Homo sapiens: one gene and its partners. The protein of the gene in region 1 interacts with the protein of each later gene in a pairwise test. Each region holds a gene or a part of one and is shown in the gene's direction. Other genes may lie near its edges.

Evidence for each region.
Region 2: the proteins of DTNB (region 1) and ABI1 interact in binary tests that used the Homo sapiens proteins (3 or more experiments, as listed by UniProt).
Region 3: the proteins of DTNB (region 1) and TRIM37 interact in binary tests that used the Homo sapiens proteins (3 or more experiments, as listed by UniProt).
Region 4: the proteins of DTNB (region 1) and TSACC interact in a two-hybrid assay, tested with the Homo sapiens proteins (one large-scale study listed by BioGRID and IntAct).
Region 5: the proteins of DTNB (region 1) and POU6F2 interact in binary tests that used the Homo sapiens proteins (3 or more experiments, as listed by UniProt).
Region 6: the proteins of DTNB (region 1) and NDEL1 interact in binary tests that used the Homo sapiens proteins (3 or more experiments, as listed by UniProt).
Region 7: the proteins of DTNB (region 1) and CEP63 interact in binary tests that used the Homo sapiens proteins (3 or more experiments, as listed by UniProt).

The regions. Positions count from the first base shown.
Region 1 is NC_000002.12:25,667,078-25,670,577, reverse strand, and holds part of DTNB (dystrobrevin beta), read left to right. Parts: intron 1-3,500.
Region 2 is NC_000010.11:26,766,959-26,770,458, reverse strand, and holds part of ABI1 (abl interactor 1), read left to right. Parts: intron 1-113; coding exon 114-214; intron 215-1,466; coding exon 1,467-1,607; intron 1,608-3,500. UniProt on the Homo sapiens protein: May act in negative regulation of cell growth and transformation by interacting with nonreceptor tyrosine kinases ABL1 and/or ABL2. May play a role in regulation of EGF-induced Erk pathway activation. Involved in cytoskeletal reorganization and EGFR signaling.
Region 3 is NC_000017.11:59,030,381-59,033,880, reverse strand, and holds part of TRIM37 (E3 ubiquitin-protein ligase TRIM37), read left to right. Parts: intron 1-1,790; coding exon 1,791-1,985; intron 1,986-3,500. UniProt on the Homo sapiens protein: E3 ubiquitin-protein ligase required to prevent centriole reduplication. Probably acts by ubiquitinating positive regulators of centriole reduplication.
Region 4 is NC_000001.11:156,341,526-156,344,510, forward strand, and holds part of TSACC (TSSK6-activating co-chaperone protein), read left to right. Parts: intron 1-2,985.
Region 5 is NC_000007.14:39,208,409-39,211,908, forward strand, and holds part of POU6F2 (POU domain, class 6, transcription factor 2), read left to right. Parts: intron 1-3,500. UniProt on the Homo sapiens protein: Probable transcription factor likely to be involved in early steps in the differentiation of amacrine and ganglion cells. Recognizes and binds to the DNA sequence 5'-ATGCAAAT-3'. Isoform 1 does not bind DNA.
Region 6 is NC_000017.11:8,449,384-8,452,883, forward strand, and holds part of NDEL1 (nuclear distribution protein nudE-like 1), read left to right. Parts: intron 1-1,396; coding exon 1,397-1,570; intron 1,571-3,500. UniProt on the Homo sapiens protein: Required for organization of the cellular microtubule array and microtubule anchoring at the centrosome. May regulate microtubule organization at least in part by targeting the microtubule severing protein KATNA1 to the centrosome.
Region 7 is NC_000003.12:134,534,557-134,538,056, forward strand, and holds part of CEP63 (centrosomal protein of 63 kDa), read left to right. Parts: intron 1-2,598; coding exon 2,599-2,712; intron 2,713-3,500. UniProt on the Homo sapiens protein: Required for normal spindle assembly.

The DNA.
Region 1 (3,500 bases):
CACTCTGTGTGACTGTGTGCTGCAACTCTGCAGGTGGCTCAGAACACACACTCACTTGTCAGATACTCAAACAGTACAGACAGAATAAAGGCCCCCTTGACCTACTCACGGAAACAAGTTATCAGTTTTTGTGGTCTTTCCAGACTATTCTCTATGTATTTTCATGTATATATAGGGAACACAAACTCATCTGATACTCAAAACAGTATAGACAGAATAAAGGCCCCCTTGACCTACTCACAGAAACAGAAGTTATCAGTTTTTGTGGTCTTTCCAGGCTATTCTCTATGTATTTTCATGTATATATAGGTAATACAGAATAAAAAAAGAGCAGAGTTTTTTCTCCTCTGCATTAATGACATCATACCATACACATTGTTCTGCAGTTTTTTCCCCTAACAGAATGATTTTGAGATTTTTTCATGTTGGAACACAGGAATCAACCTGAGTCTTCTTAACTACTACACAATCTCTTATGTAGTATGTATCGTAGTTTATTTAGTATTCTCATTAAGGACCGTTGCTGCAGTGAATGAAAAACTACAGTTGCTGGGTCAGAGGTATGCGTTTTACTTCATAACTGATGGGGCTATAACCATGTTGCTGCTTGTGGATTTAATCCATTTATTTTCAACTGCTTAGTGTATTCAGTTGTAGGCTTTTTTTTTTTTTTGAGATAGGGTCTTCCTCTGTCGCCCAGACTGGAGTGCAGTGGCACTCCAGGGCTCAAGTGATTCTCCCAAGTAGCTGGGACTACACTTGCGTGCCACCATTTAAAATTTTTTGTAGAGATGCAGTCTCGCCATGTTGCTCAGGCTGGCAAGTGATCCTCCCAAAGCGTTGGGATTACAGGCATGAGCCCCTGCACCTGGCCCGGTTGTGGACTTACATCACAGCGCACGTGTCCTTTTACTCACTGAGGAACAGTTGGGTTCCTTTAGATGCTGATTCTTCAGTGGGTCTGTGTGTTGCAAATGCATCCTGCCAGCCCTAGGCTTTTCTTTCCCTTTGTTAACAATGTATTTGGTTGTATATACCATTTAAGTTTAATGTCATATTTATGAAAAATTTCCCTTAAATGGCTTGTCTTTTTTTGGGTGTGTATCTGGTTTAAGAAAATTTTCTGTCTCTCATGGTGTTAATGATATATTCTTAGAGTTTCTTCCAAAAGTTTAAAAAAGTTTTGCTTTCCAGATGGAATTTATTTCTATGTATGGTATAATGAAAAGATACAATTTTTTTTTCAATTTGGATGACCAGTTTTTCAGCACTCTAACTTTTTTTATTATAGTAAAATACACATAACATAAAAATAACAATTTTAACCATTGTAAGTGTACAGTTCTGTAGCATGAAATACATTCACATTGTTGCACAGCCATCACCACTGTCTCCAGAGCTTTTTCATCATCCCCAACTGAAACTCTGTACCCCTTAAACACCAGCTCCCCATTCTTCCCTCAGCGCCTGGCAACCACCATTCTACTTTCTGTCTCTATGAATTCGACTACTCTAGGTACCTCATATGAATGGAATCATTACAATATTTGCCCTTTTGTATCTGGCTGATTTCACTTAGTATAATGTCCTTAAAGTTCATTCATATTGTAGCATGTGTGAAAATTTCCTTTTTAAGGCTGAATAATATTCCATGGTATGAATATACCACATTTTGTTTATTCATTCATTGATGGACATTTGGGTTGTTTCCCCGTTTTGGCCATTACAAGGAGTGCTGCTATGAACATTGGTATCTGTATGTCTGTTTAAGTCTCTGTTTCCATTTCTTTTGTGTATGTACTCAAGTGCAATTGTCAGTAATACAGTTTTTAAAACAATATACATAATGGAATAAAAATAGATTAACACAATTTTGACCAATGTGGCTGAATAGTATGGAGTTTCCATATACCCACTCTTTCCCATATGGTTTCTCCTATTATTAACATCTTGCATTAGTATGCTACATTTATTATAATTGATAAACTAATATTGATACATTGTTGTTAAAGTTCATGATTTAGAGTTCACTCTTTGTATTGTATAGTTCTATGGGTTTTGACAAGTGCGTAATGTCATGTATCATTTACATGGCATGACTGCATGCTACAACCCTGCAAGGGGCTCACTTGTAAAATACTCAACAGTACAGACAGAATAAATGTCATTACATGGCTATAGTTTTACCTTTTCCAGAGTTGGAAATGTCATAGATTTGGAATCATGTAGTATGGAGCCTACTCAGATTGGCTTCTTTTGCTTAGCAGTATGCATTTAAGTTTCCTCTAAGTCTTTTTTGCGACTTGATAGCTCATTTCTTTTTTTTATTTTTATTTTTTGAGACTGAGTCTCACTCTGTGGCCCAGGCTGGAGTGCAGTGGCGCGATCTCGGCTCACTGCGAGCTCTGCCTCCCGGATTCACACCATTCTCCTGCCTCAGCCTCCCGAGTAGCTGGGACTACAGGCGTCCGCCACCATGCCTGGCTAATTTTTTGTATTTTTAGTAGAGACGGGGTTTCACCATGTTAACCAGGATGGTCTCGATCTCCTGACCTCATGATCCGCCTGCCTTGGCCTCCCAAAGTGCTGGGATTACATGCGTGAGCCACCGCGTCCGGCCAGCTCATTTCTTTTTAGCGCCGAATGATAATATTCCTTTTTATGGAAGCACCACAGTTTGTTTATTCGTTCACCTACTGAAGGACATCTTGGTTGCTTCTAGTTTTTGGCAATTTTTGAATAAAACTGCTATAAACATCCGTGTGCAGGTTTTTGTGTAGACATTAAATTTGTAACTCACTTGGGAAAATACCTAGGAGAGTGATTGCTGGGTCGAATGGTAAGAATATATCAAGCTTTGTAGGAAACTATTAAACTATCTTTCAAAGTGACTGTATCATTTGCATTCCCAATAATTTTTAAAATTTATGTCCAAGTACCCTAAATGTACTTATATAATAAGTATGTCAGACTGTTCTGTAAAGTTAAACTTCACCTGGAATAATATTTAGTCATTGGTTTTGTTGGCTGTCTTTCTTGCAGTGTATCTCTTCATGTGTTTTGAAGTACAGACTTTTTTTTTTGAGATGGAGTCTGGCTCTGTCGCCTAGGGTGGAATACAGTGGCATGATCTCAGCTCACTGCAGCCTCTGCCTCTACCTCCCAGGTTCAAGCGATTCTCCTGCCTCAGCCTCCCGAGTAGCTGGGATTATAGGCACCCGCCACCACGCCTGGCTAATTTTTGTATTTTTAGTAGAGACAGGGTTTCACCATGTTGGCCAGGCTGGTCTCAAACTCCTGACCTCAAGTGATTCGCCTGCCACAGCCTCCCAAAGTGTTGGGATTAAAGACGTGAGCCACCACACCCAGCCAAATTACAGACCCATTTTCAGAGTGAGTGCTTTTGATTTTGTTTTCTTTTCTTTTTTTTTTTTTTAATTTTGTTTTCTTCTGTGCCCACTGTCCTCTGTGTGGTGATATTTCAGGTGCTTCAGCTGACC
Region 2 (3,500 bases), on another chromosome or scaffold:
TGTCTGGGAATCCTTAATTCACATTCTGATATTTAAAAAAAATAATACATGGTGTTAAAACACCAGGAGAACAATTTGATATAAAAATAAAAGCATTTCTTTCTACATTTTAGCATGGAAATAACCAGCCTGCAAGAACTGGCACACTGTCGAGAACAAATCCTCCTACTCAGAAACCGCCAAGTCCTCCCATGTCAGGCCGGGGAACACTGGGGTAAGAATTCAACTACATTTTGCAAAAGAATTCATATGCTAAAGGAAAAGATGTTTCTGTGACTTAAGTAAGTGTATGGGATCCATGCCACACTACCCTCTCTATGTGACGCTACCTTTTACAAATTCATTTTAATTCCTATTTTCCTGAACAGAATCCCAAATGAATCTGCCAGCTTTGTAATATTCTCTATAATCTGTACTAGGAAAGTTTTTATGTATGTATAAATGGCATGATTTATTTTTTTGTCATCTAATTTTTAAAAAATATAAATCTGACTTGTTTGTTTTAAATGGAATGATTAGAGTATTCCAAATGGTGCCTTTGCATGTGTTTACAGTATCTATATTGTAGAACTTTGACTAGTGGTCTACTTTTGTGTAGTATGGCTTAGTCCACAGCTCTTCTGTTTCGCCTATTGGTGTCTGAGACTTAGGGACTCTTTACTTTAGGAAAGTATGCACTTTACTTGTAACTATGCTTCTGCTGGTAATCTTAGGCCTCTTCACACTAGAGTAGCTCCATGGGAAGGCCAGTTGGGCAAGTAGAAAAGATAACAGTGGCTTCTTCCTTCCTAGTTCTCAGTGTACTAAATATAGCGAATACTTGTCAAAGCATTATATTTCTTTAAGGTTGTTTTTCTTAATACTGGAAATATTATATTGGATTTCTTATTTTTTGGCAGAGGGGTTGTTCAACAATCAGTCTTCTTTTAAGAAGGTCTTAGTTTTCATTTTTATTCATTAAACCCTCTGCCCCTGAAAAAAAAAATGAAGTTATTAAACAGAATAGTCGAAATCATTTATTGAGAAAGTAATGATTAGAATGTATATCTCCATTTATTGCCATATTGAGATGGGAATAAATTGCAGCTTCCTATGTAAATAAATTTAGCTTCCTGTTTAAAGAACAGTGGCTTATGGGTGACTGTACTGAGAAAAATGTACATTTTAAAGTTTGCTATTATTGAGCATTTAAAAAATTATAACCATAATTTTTAGAAATAAGGTTAGGACTTTAAATTACCCTTTCCTATGTTTTTCCTAGGAAAAGGTAACAAATTTTAGTTTTCATGTTAAAGTAACAAAATTCATATATCCCAGTGAAGAATATTTTTTAAAATTACAAACTTTGTCATATATATTTTTAAATCCTGGTATACATGGTCACAAAGGGAGACTCACATATTTTTGGGAAAAATACAATTTTATCTTTTTTATTCATTATTCCTTTCTCCACTATGCTCCTTTAGACGGAATACTCCTTATAAAACCCTGGAACCTGTTAAACCCCCAACAGTTCCTAATGACTATATGACCAGTCCTGCTAGGCTTGGAAGTCAGCATAGTCCAGGCAGGACAGCATCTTTAAATCAGAGACCAAGGACACACAGGTAAGCCTTTAGGTTGAGTATCTCAACATCTCTAAAGTGGGTGTAACTGACTGGCGACAAACTCCTATGGAGGTGCTGAGTAAAGGTGAGGTGCCACTCTAATGCTAATATAAAATGTAAAAGTTGGGGGAATAATATTATATATGTTCCTGTAAGTTTGTGTTATAACTTCTGTTTTGTTTTGTTTTTTTAACTTTTTAAAACATCTATTTGTACTATTAATGGATTGTTTGTATTTCCTCCTTTTGATAGAGGTACAGACTCTATCAGACTCTACGGGTTAAGACTAAAGAATTTTTTTCTTTTTTTTTTTGTGACGGAGTTTTGCTCTCGTTGCCCAGGCTGGAGTGTAGTGGTGCGATCTCGGCTCACTGCAACCTCTGCCTCCCAGGTTCAAGCGATTTTCCTGCCTCAGCCTCCCAAGTAGCTGGGATTACAGGCCTGAGCCACCACGCCTGGCTAATTTTGAGTTGAGACGGGGTTTCTGCATGTTGGTCAGGCTGGTTTCCAACTCCCAACCTCAGGTGATCCTCCTGCCTCGGCCTCCCAAAGTGCTGGGATTACAGGTGTGAGCCACTGTGCCCAGCCCTAAGAATGTTTTAAAATGCTCTTTTAAAAAAATTCAAGGCAAACCACTCAAATACTTTTGGAGAAAAGATTAAATATCATAGGAATTATACAACGTGATTTAAACTTTCAGAGATTGAAGGAAAGAAGATTAAGCTTAAATCTGAGGGAGATTTTTTTAAGAGAATCAGTATACTAGAATATGTTGTTATAATAATAATATTATTATTATCTTTTTGGAGATGGAGTCTAGCTCTGTCACCCAGGCTGGAGTGCAGTGACGCGATCTCGGCTCACTGCAACTTCTACCACCCAGGCTTAAGCAATTCTCCTGCCTCAGCTTCCAGAGTAGCTGGGATTACAGGTGCATGCCACCACGCCTGGCTAATTTTTGTATTTTAGTAGAGATGAGGTTTCACCATGTTGCCCAGGCTGGTCTCTAACTCCTGACCTCAGGTGATCCACCCACCTCGGCCTCCCAAAGTGTTGGGATTACAGGCATGATCCACCGCTCCTGGCCTTGTATTTATTATTTTTAAATGTCCTAAAAGTCAATTACCCGGTGGGTTTTTAAAAATTTAGTTACAGAGCATAACAAGCATTCAGAAAAGTATCCACTTCAGTAAGTATACAGCTTGATGAATGGACACACACTCATATAACCATCACCCAGATCAGAAAATGGAACATTACCAGCAACCCAGAAGCCCCTCATGCTCCTTCCTGGTTATCGCCTCGACCTTCTTCCCCCAAAATATAGCCACTTCAATTTTTGAGTGCTTTATAAAACCAGATAAATTTATTATATAACCAAATTTGTTTTATTCTTCAGTTTTCTCTCTCACTTAATAACGTGGGCAGGGAACCTCTCTTTTGCCTTCACTCTTAGGTTGGTAAATGAGAGATAACTTATCAAAATGATTTATGGGAATTCCACTAAATAGGGTATATCAAGATGCGAGATGCTAGGTAAGCGGTATTTATTACTATTGGTGCTGTTAGTAAACAAATTGTTAAGTTGATATCTGCAGTTACTGTATCAGGTCAAGTTCTTTGAGGAACAAAATTGTTCTCTTTGTTGTTATTGAACTCTTGGATCAAAGTATAGTTTTTCTCTATAGTGGAAGCATAGTTTAATCATATTCAACAAGCAGTTATTAAGTGTTGTTTCATTAGATACTAGGCATTTGTCAATAGGGCATAGTTCTTTTTTCAAGAGCTCATTCTGTTAGAACAGGGATCAGCAAACTTTTTCTATAAAGGGCCAGATTGTCAATATTTTAGGATTCGTGGGCCATATATATGGTTTCTGATGCAATTACTCAG
Region 3 (3,500 bases), on another chromosome or scaffold:
CTCCCAAAGTGCTGGGATAACAGGCGTGAGCCACTGCACCCAGCTTCTCACCCCAGTATTCTTGTTCAGTGTATCTAGGATGTAATTTTAAAAACTCCTTCAGCTGACTGACATACAACCCAATTTGGGAATTCCTTAGTAAAAGAAAAGAGGTAAAAACAGTTTTCAGCTGGGTGCGGTGGCTCACACCTGTAATCCCAGCACTTTGGGAGGCTGAGGCGGGCGGATCACTAGGTTAGGAGATCCAGACCATCCTAACACGGTGAAACCCCGTATCTACTGAAAATACAGGTGTGGTGGTGCATGCCTGTAGTCCCCACTACGGGAGGCTGAGGCAGGAGAATCGCTTGAACCCAGGAGGCGGAGGTTGCCGTGAGTGGAGATCGGGCCGCTGCACTCCAGCCTGGGCAACAGTGAGACTGTGTCTCAAAACACAACAAAGAACAGTTTTCAATGTGAAGGGGAAATCGTTTTCTGTTATTTAATAGGAATTGCAGTAATACAGAGGCTGGGAAGAAAAACTGTCAGTGAGATAATAATCCTTAGAAGAGGAGGCAGAAGTGGGAGACAGTGAGAACATGAGGATGTGAAAAGCATAAATTATTAATTGGCTTGAAGCTTCTGAACAATGGAACTTTCCTCCTAAGTTATATCCTGCTGGATCTCTCTGAAATACTCATGGGTAGTTGGAACCTGACTTTTTAATATTTTATATTATCTACTTTCCTGCGTGTAGCATTGTTTTAAAATGTTCTATCTCTTTAAAATATATTTAAACAGCTTTATTGAAGAAGGTCAGTTTTAAGCAACATTTCCATATCTGGTATTTGTTATGCATTATACTAGGTGCTAGAGAAAAGTCAGATGCTTTTCTTGGCTTAAAGAGCATAGTCCAATATAGGGGTATAGGCATAATATCTGCCTACAGATGTCTGTAATGTGCATCAGTCATTAACATGACAGTCCAAAAACTTCAAATTGTACCCCATTATTTAATCAAAGTAGAAAAAGTCTACCAAACTGTCATGACCTATACATTTTACTGTCCAGAGACTTGGGGGAGATTTCTATTTTGGTGTCTAATTCTTTGTAATCTGTTATACTATGGGAATTTGTCTTCTTTTATCTAAAACCAGGTGGTCATGGGATATAATCTCCTTCTCCTTACCCTTACCTCTCATCCCCCCAATTGTGCACATCGTACACATTGTCATCTGTTTTTTTCTAGGGCTCAGGATGGGGTTGAGGCTTGCTTCTGAATTCTAAGTACTAATGAGGCCACCACTCAATCACTGTGCTAATGTACAACTGTCTGGTTCCTTCTTTCTTTTTTTTTTTTTTTTTTTTTTGAGACGGAGTCTCGCTCTGTCGCCCAGGCCGGACTGCGGACTGCAGTGGCGCAATCTCGGCTCACTGCAAGCTCCGCTTCCCGGGTTCACGCCATTCTCCTGCCTCAGCCTCCCGAGTAGCTGGGACTACAGGCGCCCGCCACCGCGCCCGGCTAATTTTTTGTATTTTTAGTAGAGACGGGGTTTCACCTTGTTAGCCAGGATGGTCTCGATCTCCTGACCTCATGATCCACCCGCCTCGGCCTCCCAAAGTGCTGGGATTACAGGCGTGAGCCACCGCGCCCGGCCCTGGTTCCTTCTTTCTGCTTCTTATCATGAACCTGAACTCCTAAGAGATAGGTCCATAGACAAGTATTCATATAATGTTAACCAGTTCATTTTTTCATTTAAGTATAGCTAAGTTTGTGCATATATATATCATTTTCTACGCCTCTTTTGCAGGTAGTAGCCATGGTTATGTGGGTTCCAGTAGTAGAATATCAAGAAGAACACATTTATGCTCCGCTGCTACCAGTAGTTTACTAGACATTGATCCATTAATTTTAATACATTTGTTGGACCTTAAGGACCGGAGCAGTATAGAAAATTTGTGGGGCTTACAGCCTCGCCCACCTGCTTCACTTCTGCAGCCCACAGGTAAAATAATAACAATGATAATTTCCTTTTTTTCTGTGGTTCTCTAAAAGAACTCTTGGATTTTCATTTAAGTATTTCAGCTATGTGTGGAACATGGTGTATTTCTGTGTTTTTCATTGTATACCATAAAAATGACATTTATGTCAACCAAATTAGTTTTTAAATTACCGTTCAAAGGTGATTTGTGCAAAAACAAAGTAAAAATGCCTGCAAGAAGGTTTTTTGTGACTTGCTACTCAGATTTTGCCTGACAGTTTGATCCATATGAAATACGGTTATCTTCTTTATGAATGGACTTTTTTTGGTCAGGCTTCATGAATTCCCTTACTTCCAAGTGGAACTATATCTAAATTGAACGTAGAAAAAGGTGACTTACTCATTCTTTGATGTTCAGTAGCTTAAAAATGTATGCCAGTTGGCAGCACTGTTTTCTGTGCAAAGGTTATTTGTTAAATAGAAATTACATTTGTGTTACTATAATAAAATGGAGATTTGTATAGTCAAATATGGGCTTTTTTAAACTCTCGGGGATAGAGTCATTTTGGACAACTAAGTATTTGCCTTTAAAAGCTACATTTTAAAAACCATTTTTGTTGGAATGCTTTCTAAAGTATAGTCAGTATATTCAAAAATATATGCCAAATATTTTTCTACCTTCTTAAACAATAGTATTATATACATCAAATCAATGATTTAGAACTCTGATTTTGATGTAGTTTTAAGGCAAGATAACTCATTTTTCAATCAAAGTCCAAGGCAGAACCTCTGTGTAAATAACAGAGAAATAGAGCTCTTCTACTGGTGTAGGGACATGGAGCCCAGATTATTTAGGCTTCTTCTTTCCTAAGAGCCAGATATACTTCCTGAAAGTCTGGATCCTCAGCTTAAAAGACTATCTTCAGGTTATGAAACAGTTGCCTTTTATGTGTGCGCCAAGTATGCTTTATATAAAGTTTTACTTAAATGTTAAGTGTTGTTTGCAAAGGCCCAGTGAAACAGACAGGTTCTGATTCTGTAGGTAGATATGTAAGTTGGTTTAACCTTTTTGAAGGACAATTTTGTAGTAGTTTAAAAATATCTATATCCTTTAAACTTGTAATTTCACTTTGAGGAGTATATTCCAAAGAGAAAACAAGCAGATGTTTAAAAATATTCAACAATACAGTTATAGCTGAATAAATTACAGTGTAACCATGCAATGGTATATTTTATAGACAAGTAAAATCGTGTTTTTGAAAATAATCAGTATCATTGGGAAAAATGCAAACTAAATAGTAAGATTTCTGTGTAAAACTAGTTTTCTGTGTAAAAACAATACAAATGAGATGATCTGAATTTCAAATTTAGGTGATAAAATGCTGGCAATAATGAGGGCGGGGAAAATAGTAGAAAGAAAAAGCAAGTTTTGGATTTAAACATCTTGAGTTGGGCATAACAGTGTGACATCAAATTAGAAAGGACCAGTAGACAGCTAAAAATTAAGAACTGGGGCTGGGCGCAGTGGCTCACGCCTGT
Region 4 (2,985 bases), on another chromosome or scaffold:
GTCATTGTGAGAAACATATAAGAGAATGTATGTAAAGCACCTTTTATTATCATATCCTCTGTTCTGCCTCCTTTTGCCTCTCTCCACCCTCATCCTCTGTTATACATTGTCAGAAATACAGCTCCTTTAGTATAGAGTGTGTGTAAAGCAGTCTCTTTCTTTAATTAAAAAACAATTTTTAATTTCTCATGCCACCTTGTGTAAAAATGTGTAAAGCATTCTTCAAACCTTATAACCCAGTATAAAATGCATTCTTGGCCGGGCGCAGTGGCTCACGCTTGTAATCCCAGCACTTTGGAAGGCTGAGGCAGGCAGATCACGAGGTCAGGAGATCGAGACCATCCTGACTAACACGGTGAAACCCGTCTCTACTAAAAATACAAAAAATTAGCCGGGCATTGTAGTGGGCACCTGTAGTCCCAGCTACTTGGGAGGCTGAGGCAGGAGAATGGCATGAACCTGGGAGGCGGAGCTTGCAGTGAGCCGAGATGGCACCACTGCACTCCAGCCTGGGCGACAGAGCAAGACTCCGTCTCCAAAAAAAAAAAAAAAAGAAAGAAAAAAAAATGCATTCTCCTATGTCCAGGAAGGACTCAAATTATTTAAAAGTGCATTTGCATGGAAATTAACACATTTTGCATGGAAATTAACACATTATTGAGAAGAATCTTGAGACCTGAGTTTCAACTTCTGTCTCCTTACCACATTCTGCACAAGCCATCAAGTGACTGATGACTCTGGAGCAGGAGGGAAAAGAAGATGGATGACCTACCAGTAGAGCCTGGAAAATCCACAAACCCAGTAACCCAGTGCAAAAGAAAAAAACCAAAACCAAAAAAACATATTTCCCTCACCAAGAGTGACTGACAGAACAGATTTCAGTTTTCATAGGCTCAGTGACCTTCCAGACAGAAAGCATCTCACCCTGGCACCCACATATAAGCACTTCTTCCTCTTACCAGGCCATTCCTTCTGTTGCCCTCTGAGTAAAGAACAAGAATAAGACATTTTCCTTCATACAACCTACTTTTCACACTTCTGCCCCCAGGCTTGTTTTTTATGAAGAGGCCCTTCTTAATCCTTCAGATCCCAGCTGAGATATTATTTCCTCAGGACATGTTTTCCAGCTCTACAGACTAGGTCAGTTGCTTTCATAGCACTTACTGAAGTGTAATAGCATGTGTGCTTGATCACCTAATGCCTGTCTGCACAGCAAGACTGTCAGTTCCAGGAGAGTAGTGACCACTTCTGTTTAGCAAACTGTGGTATCCACAGCGATGACACATAGGCACTTAGCTATCTCTTATGTGTATGATGAAAATGAATTGTTTTACCATCCTTTCTTGATTTCATTATAACAGTGAATTATTGTCTCCCTACTGTCTTGCCTTTTTAATTCTTACCTAGTTCCAGCTGTCTGACTTTCCATCCATTGCCCTTGTCTACTTTGCCACTTCCTTTTCATCTTCTAGACTCCTGAGGAGGAGTTCCTTGAAGGTTCAGTTTTTCTCTCTCTGTTTTTTGCCTTGGAGAGCTAATGTATTTTTGCAGCTCCTTCATCCCCTTTTTGGGGCTGCCTGGCAGTTTGACCTTTCACTTGAGCTCCGGTGCCAGCTCTCTGGCTGTTTTTCTGGGCACTTCTATTTGGATTTCCTACTCTCACCTCAGATTCAATATGTCCAGATGTGATTATGTTAATATGAGAGTTGAGTTTTACTCAAACTTCTTTAAGTAAAAAAGGCAATTCAGGGACTTGTGCAGTTGGGAGAGATGCTGAAATAGCTCACAGAATAATGGGAAGAAGAGCGGCAAAAACCAGGGCCTCGGGGACTAAAACTGGGGATTTGGTGCCTGTTGGTGTCTGTGTATCCATCTGTCTCTCTCCTATGCTTTTCCTTGTCTCTAGTCTCTTGCTTTTCCACTTCTCATGATATGCTAGCCAAATAGCTTTCACTGGGCCCAACCATACATTTTCTCAGAATAGGAGATCAGAAGAAAGTAAATTTCTTAGACACAGAATCCATATATTGATCCCAGGGAATGACTCTGGCCCAACTTACCTCATGCGCCTAATCCCTTGGCTCAGTCACAGTTGCCAAGGGGGATGGGAATACCATGATTGGCCTGTATTGGGTCACAGGCCAATCCTTGTTAGGGAGAGGGGCTTGATTGTGGTCTCACCAGTATAGCCTGGCTTCTCAAGTTTTTTGTTGTTGTTGTTTCATTTTTTTTGAGAAGGAATCTCACCCTTGTTGCCCAGGCTGGAGTGCAGTGTTGTGATCTCGGCTCGCTGCAATCTCTGCCTCCCGGGTTCAAGTGATTATCCTGCCTCAGCCTCCCAAGTAGCTGGGACTACAAGCGTCTGCCACCACGCCCGGCTAGTTTTGTATTTTTAGTAGAGACGGAGTTTTACCAGGTTGGTCAGGCTAGTCTTGAACTCCTGATCTCAGGTAATCTGCCTGCCTTGGCCTCCCAAAGTGCTGGGATTACAAGCATGAGCCACCGTGCCCAGCCGCTTCTCAAGTTTTTAAGGTTCAGTAAATATCCTCTACCTGAAAGGAGGTAGAGTTCTCTCGCTACTCATATTGATCTCTTCTCCCTTTTAAGAAACATTCATTTTTACCTTTAATCACATAGTATAACTAACAGATAAAAGGCTTTTATTTTCACCCCAGACTCAGACTCATTGTTTATGTCCTCATGTTGTTAGATCACTGTTTCACCTGTGTCTGATTTGTCTTCCTAACTAGATACTAAGCATCTAAGAAACCATGTCTTAACACATCTTATGTATACCCTAGGATTTAGTACAGTCGCAAGCATGTAGTGTATATCAGTAAGAACTTGTAAACAAATTAGATTTTGGCTTATCCCACTCCTGCTTGGTTTCTCTTAATCCTATTATGATTTCTTTTTTGTCTTATGTATCTTTCTGATATGTAACATATTCACGGCAGGGCCTGGGCACCTGCTTTCATGGACCAG
Region 5 (3,500 bases), on another chromosome or scaffold:
GTTTTCTTCATATATATATAAAATTAACAATTAAAATTTTTGCAGAATGAGGGCCTGTCTGGGTAAGTTATCAGAATAGCAATTTAAAATACTTTTTTAGCTGGTCAAATGTTAGGGCTTCATATAATTTATCGGAGAATCAGTCCACAAGACTAAGAAACAGACCAAGTAAGAACTGTTCACTCTTGACCCAAACTTCTTTCCGTTCTCTATGTTCTGTTACCCCACCCATTGTTGCCACTTCTTGACTTCCATTTTGATGTTTAAAACGAAGTCTCTCTTGTACCATTAAATTGTGCCAAGAAACCTGCCATTCATAAATCATGCATGCCCAGGATACGCTAATGCACAAACTTTGCTTGTTTCAAATTTGAGAGTGCCTGGGAAGCCAGATCTCAAGATTAAGCAAATAAAGCAGGAATACACAAGGTGAAAGCCGAAGCAACAAAGTGTAGGGAGAGGCGTTTTAATGTAGGTGGATGATGAAATCTTAATGAAGAAATGGGCATTATCAAAATGCAGCCTTCCGTTTGGAACATTTGTGCTTATGGGAATATTGAATATTATAAATAAACATAAGCTCAAAGAGCTCCTAGGCCATGAATTAATCCTGCTTGGTTAAGATGGTTGCCAAAAATCAGAGTTTAAAAAAAAAGTAGGCTTGTTATTTCTTGATCATAGTTTGATATTCTTAAGATATTAGTACCTGTTTTTTTAAGGGTTCAAAATTAATGATTGGTCCAACGTGGACTTCTTCCACCAAGATTTTCCCTTTTGTTTTTGTTTGTTGTAAATATCAAAGTTCATTATTAGCGTATAGTTTGGAGTTTGGTTCTTTGAGTCACCTCTGGTTTCAGAAAAGGAATCCCAAGCTTTGTAGCCTGATTAAGTAGGGGAAACAAAAGTTCTTGCTTTTCTTATCCCTGGGCACTTCTGACACAATTTCCCTCTCAGCATCATCTTCAGAAGTGGGTTGGAGTTGACGCCCAAGCTCTTGTCTGCTACACAAGCACAAGTGAACATTTCCCCCTTTGTCTTCCTCTTTGAAATTTGACTGACGTTGGAGGGAAGGTGATGAGGTTATTAGAATAAATCACCTCCCAGTTGCAAATCAGCTGGTTATAGGAAAAGCTTTCTAATTAGTATAAGTCTCAGGTAACCCAGAAAGAGGTGGTCATCCTAACGAGAAGTTCAAGGGCAATAAGGATGGTAATCAGGAAAGTCTCATGCCTCAAAAGTGCCCAAGATAAATGTCCACCACCTAAAGGGCAAAGCCAGTGGTCACCTTGTAATCAATCCACCAGCAGCCATCCCAAAGCTGATTTTCCCACCTTTAGGCGACCTATTGCACAGCCCTTGATAATCCCTAGGCAGAATCAATGGCTTGTGGAGCTTTCCAGGTTATGTTGCAGAAGCAGTGGGACTCGGGATGGTGAGTGAATGTCTGACAGGCTGAAAGGTCATCTGCAGGGGTTCTGAGACTGAGCTAGTCTTCAGGATGACCTCAAATCTCATCCTCTCTCAAAGGTGAGAGTTAAGGGTGAGAGTCTTGTAAATGGACTATCAGTACCTTAGAAGGAATCCTTACATGCATTCATGCAGTCAACAGCGAGGGGAGAAGGCTGTTTCCTTTCCCCCATCTCTTTCCTGTACAATAAATACAGTATTTATCAACCCAAGGCTTTTCAGAGTCTTTAAAAACAACTCTTAAGTCTGCTCGTCTATAATAAACACCCCACTTCTCCAGTGATTTTATAAAACATATTTGGTGGGTCATTGTGAGGGGCAGGTTTCATACCTAGTCTGCACACCTAGTCTGAAGCACAGCCTGTTACCATGTAACATGCTTGGTCATGAATAGTGCCCTTTTCCTCATTGTGAAGTGTTAAGCTTTTATTCATGAAACAGTTCGGCCAACTGGAATTATCTCCAGCCTTCCTACCCAGCCCTCTAGCCTGTCTATTCTTCTAGCTCAAAAGTCACAAATTTGCTAGGATGAAAGGAAAAAAAAAAGTTGCTGACATCAGTCTCTTAATGGTTTGGAATTCAGGGATAAGTTTTCAAATATTTTCCTTTTTACTGAAGTGATTGAGAGCGTGTTCATTTACATCCCCTATCAAGTCACACAGAATAGCTCTCAGAGCCTTGGAGGCCATGATTTACACATGTATTTTAATGAGCACTCATGACATGCTGTTACACTGAGAGCAGCTCTTCTCGACTCTGACAGCGGGGGTCATATCACAATCTCCTCTTAAAACATGGTCCCCAGACCAGCGGCATCAATGTCTCCTGGGAGCTTGCTGGAAATACAGGATCTCAGGCTCTACCCGAGATACCCAAGACTCTCGGAACAGAATCTGCATTTTTAAAAGATCCCCAGATAATCCCCATGCACATTAAAGTTTAAGAAATGCTGATCTAGGGAGATTATTCAAAGTTCATTAGGCAACTCCCTGCCTTAGTCTGTTTGGGCTGCTATAACATAAAAACCATAGGTAGGGTGGTTTATAAACAACAGATTGTATTCCTCACAGTGCTGCAGCCTGGGAAGTCCAGGATCAAGGCACAGGCAGATTTGGTTCTGGTGAAGGCCCACTTCCTGGTTCATAGATGTCTGTCTTTTTACTGTGTCCTCCCACCACAGAAGGTATGAGAGAACTCTCAGGGTTCCTTTTATAAAGGCACTAATTTCGTCATGAGGGCTCCACCCTTATGACCTAATCAACTCCCAGAGGCCTCACCTGCTGATACCATCACCTTGGGGGTTAGGATTTCAACATAAAAACTTGGTGGGTTGGGAGGAACAAACACCCAGTCCATGGCATCCCCCAATATCACCAGCAGCCAGAATCAGAGACTCTTATGACAATGGATGACCCACATGAAGGCAGTGAATGTCCTTATTAATGCTCCCGCTCTCACTCACCACCCCAGGCCTCCAGATGAGAATGACAGAAAGGAATAATGTGTGGGAACGTTTTTGCTTCTGTTAGGAGTTTCATATCCTCAAGACCAAGGGAAGTTCTCTTACATAGTGGAAGCCCTCTTGAAGTCCTTGCTCTGAGATTTTATCCAATGAAAGTTTTGCTTTGCTGATAAAAAGACCTTATAACTCAGCAGAAAACCTGTATGTGTGGCCTGGGAATTATTTTATCTTTCTCTCAGATCCTTCCCAGCAAGAAAGAGATTGATTCCTGTCTCATCAGTGATGAGTTCTTATTGTAAGAAGATACACAGTTGTAAGGAGTTAGACATCTTGCAGGATCCTAGGAACAGCCCTGTAACCCAGCCTCATTGGAACCTGGAATGAATTTGGGCATTAGAGCATCCAGCAAACCACAAGGCTGCAGGCTGTATCATCCTCTCCTCTGCAGGAGGCAGGCATCTAATCCCCACACCCAGAATGACTAATGACCCATCTCCCTGTCTTCTCCTGCGCCCTCCAGGACGTTTCTCTACTGCATTGGATGGCTTTTGGCTGAACCATGATTCCGGTT
Region 6 (3,500 bases), on another chromosome or scaffold:
CTCCCAAAATGTTGGGATTATGGGTGTGAGCCACTGTGCCTGGCTTCTTAATCATTTTAAAGTGTACAGTCCAGTAGTGTTAAGTATAGTCAAATTGTTGTGTAAACAAATTTTTAGAACTTTTTCATCTTGCAAAACTGAAACTATACCTATTGAATAGTGACTACCCATTTTCCCTTCCCTTCAGCCCCTGGCAACCACAGTTCTATTTTCTATGAGTTCAGCTACTTTAGATACCTCATATAAGGGAGATTATACAGTATTTGTGACTGGTTTATTGCATTTAGCATAATGTCCTCAAGGTTTATCCATGTGTAGTATGTGACAAAATTTCCTTCTTTTTTAAGGCTGAATGATACTCCATTGTATGTATTCATTTTCTTTATCTGTTCATCTGTGGATGGACATCGAGTTGCTCCCATCTCTTGCTATTGCGAATGATACCGCTGTGAACATGGGTGTCCAAATATCTCTTTGAGATCCTGTTTTGAATTCTTTTGGATACATACCCAAAAGGGGGATGACTTTGTTCCTTTTTTAACACAAGCAAATATTCTGTAAGTTAAATTGCATAATTGGAAAAGATAACATTAATTTTGGGTTAAAAACTCGACATTGGCTGGGTGTGGCGGCTCACGCCTGTAATTCTAGCACTTTGGGAGGCTGAGGCGGGTGGATCATTTGAGGTTAGGAGTTCGAGACCAGCCTGACCAACATGGTGAAACCCCATCTCTACTAAAAATTCAAAAAAAAAAATTAGCTGGGTGTGGTGGCGGGCACCTGTAATCCCAGCTACTTGGGAGGCTGAGGCAGGAGAATCGCTTGAACCCAGGAGGTGGAGGTTGCAGTGAGCCGAGATTGCGTCACTGCACTCTAGCCTGGGCGACAGAGTGAGACTCCGTCTCAAAAAAAAAAAAAAACGCTCAATATTTGAAAGCATGAGAAAAATTTAAACCGTTCTGAATACTTCTTTTCTAAAAGTAAATATTTCATAGTGATAATAGTTAATGCCAGCCCATTTAAAATTACAAAAATGCACTTAGTTGATTTTGCAATAACCCCAAAACTACATCATTTGAAAATAAAAGCAAATAAGTTGGTGAAGAATATTTACTTTTGTGTGAATTGTACTGTGGACTCTGCACTGTTTCTTTTTGCATATAAGCATAAGTAACTTCTCTCAGGTTATAGCATTTTTAAATTCTAAAAGATCATTTAGACAGTAGTTTTGCCATTTTTATTCCCCTAGAAATGAAAGTTATACTTAAATAGGAAATTCATTTTTGAGAAATAGTAATTTAGGAAGAAGACCTTTATGACATTTTAGATGTCACTTTGCTTGATATATTTGCTCCCTCTAGTGAGTATTCCTGCCCTTGTTTGCAATATTTTACAGATTTAAGGCAAGAACTAGCAGTTCGGGAAAGACAACAGGAAGTAACTAGAAAGTCGGCTCCTAGCTCTCCAACTCTAGACTGTGAAAAGATGGACTCCGCCGTCCAAGCATCACTTTCTTTGCCAGCTACCCCTGTTGGCAAAGGAACGGAGAACACTTTTCCTTCACCGAAAGGTTTGTAATGTCTTTTCTTTTTGAGGCGATGTGTTAGATGATCAGCTTACGGGGGTTTGTTGCTGAAGGCGGTTGCTAAGGTTTAAAGAGTAATTTTAGTTTAAAAGTTGGTGAAGTCTAGTGCTATGTGAAATAGAAGAAGGAATTGTTTTCCTAGGCCACTAATATATAGGAAACAGTGAAATGATGGTTACATTTAAGATGAGATTTTTAAAAGTTAAAGGTTTTTAAGGAAAGTTTATTTTTTGATGATAGCAATAGATTTTGTGATTACAGCCGTATGTTTAGGTAGAAAATTTTAAAAACACAGAAAAAGAAAATAAAAATCATGTTATCTTACCACTTACAGGCACCCACCATTAACATTTTGAGTTTTTTTTTCTATTGTGTGCTTGTGTGTGTTTGTGCACATCTCTTTGTCACATGCAAATTTGGGGATCATATTTAAACACAGTTTTATTTCTTCCTTTTGCCACTTTCCATATCATGGGAGACCTGAGGCCTTTCTACATAGAATGTACAGAGAATCATTAAGTTATCTTTCAGACTCATGTAAGACCGGCTTGGATGGACATGCCCATTCTGTTACATGCTTCAGGAGCTGCCATTTTCAAAAGCATTGTTCGGAGTAATTGATGATTGGCACATACAGAATACTCACATTGCCATGAACCAGTGTGTTTTTTTAAAATCCGGATAAGCAGAAAAACCACCTAGTAGCCACTAGATAGAACCTTAAAATGGAATCTTAAAGCTCTCAATTGAGATTTGTTTAGATTTTGCAGCTCGTAGTTCATATTTCTGCTACTCTCATCCCCCCTTGCTTTTTTTTTCCACCCTATATTGAAGCTGTCATCCCACCCTTTTTAAAATATAGGGTTTTATCTTTTAGAATGCTATGTGGGCAACTAGTACAGTGAGCTCTCTCTGTCTGTGCTACTCAATAGTCACCAGCCCATGTGGCTATTTAAATTTATATTAAAATGAAATAAAATATAAAATTCAGTTTCTTTGTCACATTAACCACATTTCAAGTGCTCAGTAACCCTTGAGTAGGTAATTCAACTTGTCTTTGCCTTGTTACGAGATGATATCAGATAAGGTATGTGAAGGTGCTGTATGGTTGTAAGGTGTTACTAATTGCGCTAGGTTTACTGCTGAGGACAAAGGGCAGGCAATAGATTATTAGCAGTCATCAGGAGCCCTCACGGTCAGTTTTTCAGAAGAGCTGCTTGTATATTTGAAGATTTCACAATTACACCTGAGGACTAACAAAGTTTTACTTTTATGTTACTGATTAGAATTATGCAGATCTGAAAATCCTTTAATTGAAGACGAATCAGAATAGTGAAAAGCCTCAGGTGCGGTGACACCCACAGGTGGTGCACATTTTTTTTTAATAGCCCGTTAGAGTTTTCATTCAGGGACTTGGGGAGTCAAAAGGACATGGAGCCTGCTGTGGCACGGCATGAGGTGTGCCAACCCTATGGCAGTAATATTTGCTTAATAGATATGTTTTTAGGCTGGAACCAATAGCATGAATTTTCACTGGCTAACCTAAAAGCTGCTGTGTACTAGATCACTGCAATTTCATTACAAGAAAGCACAGAGTTGTGAGCAGCAGCAGGTGGTCAGAGAAATCGGTAAGATCTTAGAGCTGATCTTTCTGAAGTGGTCTGTCTTTAATTGTATTTTACCTTTTACAATGTTTGTTTCTCTTTCTTTCTTTCTTTCTCTTTCTTTCTTTTTCTTTCTTCCTTTCTTTCTTTTCTTTTCTTTTTCTTCTCTTTTTTTTTTTTTTTTTTGACAGAGTTTTGCTTTTTTTGCCCAGGCTAGAGTGCAATGGTGCGATCTTGGCTCATTGCAACTTCCGCCTCCTGGGTTCAAGTGATTCTCCTGCCTTGGCCTCCCAAGTAGCTGGGATTACAGG
Region 7 (3,500 bases), on another chromosome or scaffold:
GTCATTACATTTTTTACTTTCCCCTTCATCTCCTGTGCTCCTCTCTTGCTTCCTCATATTTGCTTGGCAGAATCACAGTTCTGCTTAAGTCCACCTTTCTGCCCACTCTCTACCTGTCATGTATCGCTGAACGTGGCTAGAGAAAAACCTAATCATACTGTCTGTTCTCACTTTAAATTCATGGTCACTAACCTCAAATGGGTCCTAATGCTACCTGGAATCATACTGTATTTCCTCTCATCTCCTACTTTCCACAATGAGTATTTCAGACTTCTGCTTTTCTCCTCAAACTCTCAACACCTTTCCCCACATCCTCACCTTTGGGTTATATCTTCCTTTCTGTTTATAGACTTCCAACTCTTGTGTCCACCCACCTATCTGCATCTGTGCCCATGTACCCTGCCTTCCTTCCTGGAGGAACTACGCATGCCCTCCCCCTTTTCTACCCAAGGCATTACCTTAGCAGTTCACCTTCTCTTTTCTGCACCCTTAATTTTTTTTCTCTACTGGATATTTTTTACCAGCATCCAAATTTCCCTCCTCTTAAATATCCTCTCTTGACCCGTCTCTTCCTCCTCTGCCCCATTTTATTTCTTCCATTTTATAACTAAAAAATTACTTCAGTCATCTATACTTGTCTCCAGTTCCTCTTGTCTCATTGTTCTTGTACCCACTCAATAAGGCTTTTGTCCCCTCACACTGCAGAAGCTGTTCACATAGAGGTCACCAGTGACTTCCACATTCCCAAAGCCTGTGGGCTGGTCCTTATCTTCCTCATCCTACCTACAGCTTTGTAGGAGAGCTGGTCTCTCCCAACTCCTTAACCACTTTCTTGACTTGGCTTGAGAAAAACCACATTTCTCTCATTTTTTCCTTGTTCATCACTCCTCAGTCTCCATTATTCCTTAACCACCTAGGGTCATGTCATTGGACCTTTCCTTTCCTTTTTTTTTTTCCTATCTACGCTCACTCCCCTATTGATCCCATTGAATTTCATAGCTTTAACACTGTGTATATGCTGACAATTCCTAAATTTATATATCTAGCCAAGACCTCGCCTCTTCATGACAGAATAACTTTCAACTGCCTGTTTCCTATCTCCACTATGATGTCTAAAATGTGTCAAACTTAACATGTCCAAGCTAAAGGTCCTGTCTTTCTCTTCCTCATCTCCCCAACACTGATTCATGTTTTAGTTGATAACAACTCAATTTGCTCAACCTAAAACCTCGGAGTCATCCTAGACTTCTCTTTTCTCAGCATGATAGCCAGAATGATTCTGCTGTAATGTAAGTCAAATTATATCACTTCCTATACAAAAACCTTCCAGCAGCTTCTCTTAAAAATCTGTTATCCTAATGGCCTACGTGGTCTCATTCCCAGTTATCTCTCTTACCTTGTCTTCTCCTACTTTCCCTTTCATTCACTTTATTCCAGCCACACCAATTTCCTTTCTCACCCTTAAACACACCAGGATGCTCTTATTTCAAGGCTATTCTTTCCACCCAGAATATTGTAACTTCACCCTCATCTCCCTAGGTGTTTACTTAAATGTTTTTCACTCAGTCTGGCCATCCCTTTTAAAAATTACAACCCCAACTGTGAAGACTTCATGCTCTGTTTTCTCCAAAACGTGTATTACCATCTGCTATACCATACAAGAAATGTGTCATCTGTTGCCCCCAGTTGAGTAGGACTAGGGTTTTTGTTTGTTTTGTTAAGTATTGTATCCCTGACTCCTAAAGCAGTACCTGGCATATATAGTAGAATGATTGAATGAATGAATGAATATCAGAAATTTGGTTAACAACACTTATCTTAAGGAGCCTGAGACTTCTGGAGTTGAGGGTCCTGGAAGACAGTGATAGAAAGATTGAGTTTCCTTTCCCTTTGATTTGCCCCATTTTCATAAATATTGAAATCACTTTCTTGATCATGCAATTTGATGTTACTATTGATCCATCATTAATTTTGAACTGTTTGGCTTTGGGTTACAAATATTTGTTAAAATTTGGTACAGATTTTCTTTGTTATTCAAACTTTTGCAGTTCCTCTGTTGAGATAATACAAATTTGGATATCAAAGGATATTGTGTTATCTGAATCTACTTGGTTCCTTAGTTTTAGATACTGGGAAGTAAGATTTGGGTTACCAAGGGACTTATCTGAAAATTTAATCTGTTCAATTCCTGGGTCTGGATATCAAGAATTTGGATAGCGAGGGATATCTGTAATCATACTTTAAAATTTTAGTTATCTTAGCATCAGTTTTCTGAAAATTCACTAGAAAATTATAACAACCCTTAGGTGGCAGCAAATCAGTGAAAAACATCTGAATCCAGTGCTTAACATCTGCGTGTCATACTCCTCACCATCAGGGTGTTAAATTTAGAAAGACAGATATCCAGAGGCACAGTATGTGAGGAAGTTAGTATTACTCTCCAGCTCTGTTAGCTGAGTGAGTAATGGGGCTCCCGCTGTGGAGAAAGGTGCAAGCGTACCCAGGGACATGGGGAGAAATTAAAGTTAAAGGGAGTCTGGGAAGTAGTGACAGTGAGGAGAAGCACTCAGAAATTAAGTACTCTAATTGCCTCCTCAGGAATTCCGTCAGAAATCGCTGGACTGGGAGAAGCAACGCTTGATTTATCAGCAACAGGTATCTTCACTGGAGGCACAAAGGAAGGCTCTGGCTGAACAATCAGAGATAATTCAGGTAGGCCTAAGACTTTTTAAAATAATGAGAAGCAGATAGGTTTTGATCAAGTTTGAACTACCTTAATGCAGTGTCCTAGTACCATTTAGCCTCTTTCAGCTTCTCTCCACGAACCCTGCTCTCTTGTTTAGGAAGCCTCTCCTCAGCATCTAGACTCAGCTCCTTCTTCCCGCCTGCCCTCACACATGCGTGCATTCACTCTCCTGTCCAGGCTCATGTCCTTGTGCCCGCTTGCTGCTTTGCCTCCTTGCTTGTTTCTGACTTGCTCACCCACTCTCTGTCATTGTCTTGCTTACTCAGGCTCACTCTATGCTTGCATCCATGTTCACTCTCCTCATCTTGGTCCCTAGCTTTGTCGCCCTCTCTTCCTCCCCTCTCTTTCTTCCCTACCACAGTCCCATTCCTCCCTCTGTCTCCTTTTCCATGTCTTTCTGTCTCTTGTTGGGTCTCTCAGCTCTACTATAGTCTGTGCCTTGCTCCATCCCTATGGTCACTGGGGTATCTTGGCCGAAGTGTCTCAGCTAGGGAGCTTCAGTTAGTCTGCCTATGCGGACAGATACGGAGAGAGTCACATGGCAATGGTGTGCACACCAACTAAAAGTGGTGTCTTTGTGGTAACAAAAACACTTATTTTAGAACATTGATAGAAACTTTTCTTGTAATGGCTTAAGCAAAACCAAAAAACAGACACCTACTTTAGGAATATGTCTTGTAAGAACATATTCAGCTCATTCCTTTTTCAGTTAGAATCAAGAACATAAAGGAAACTAAAAAAATTTGTGATCATC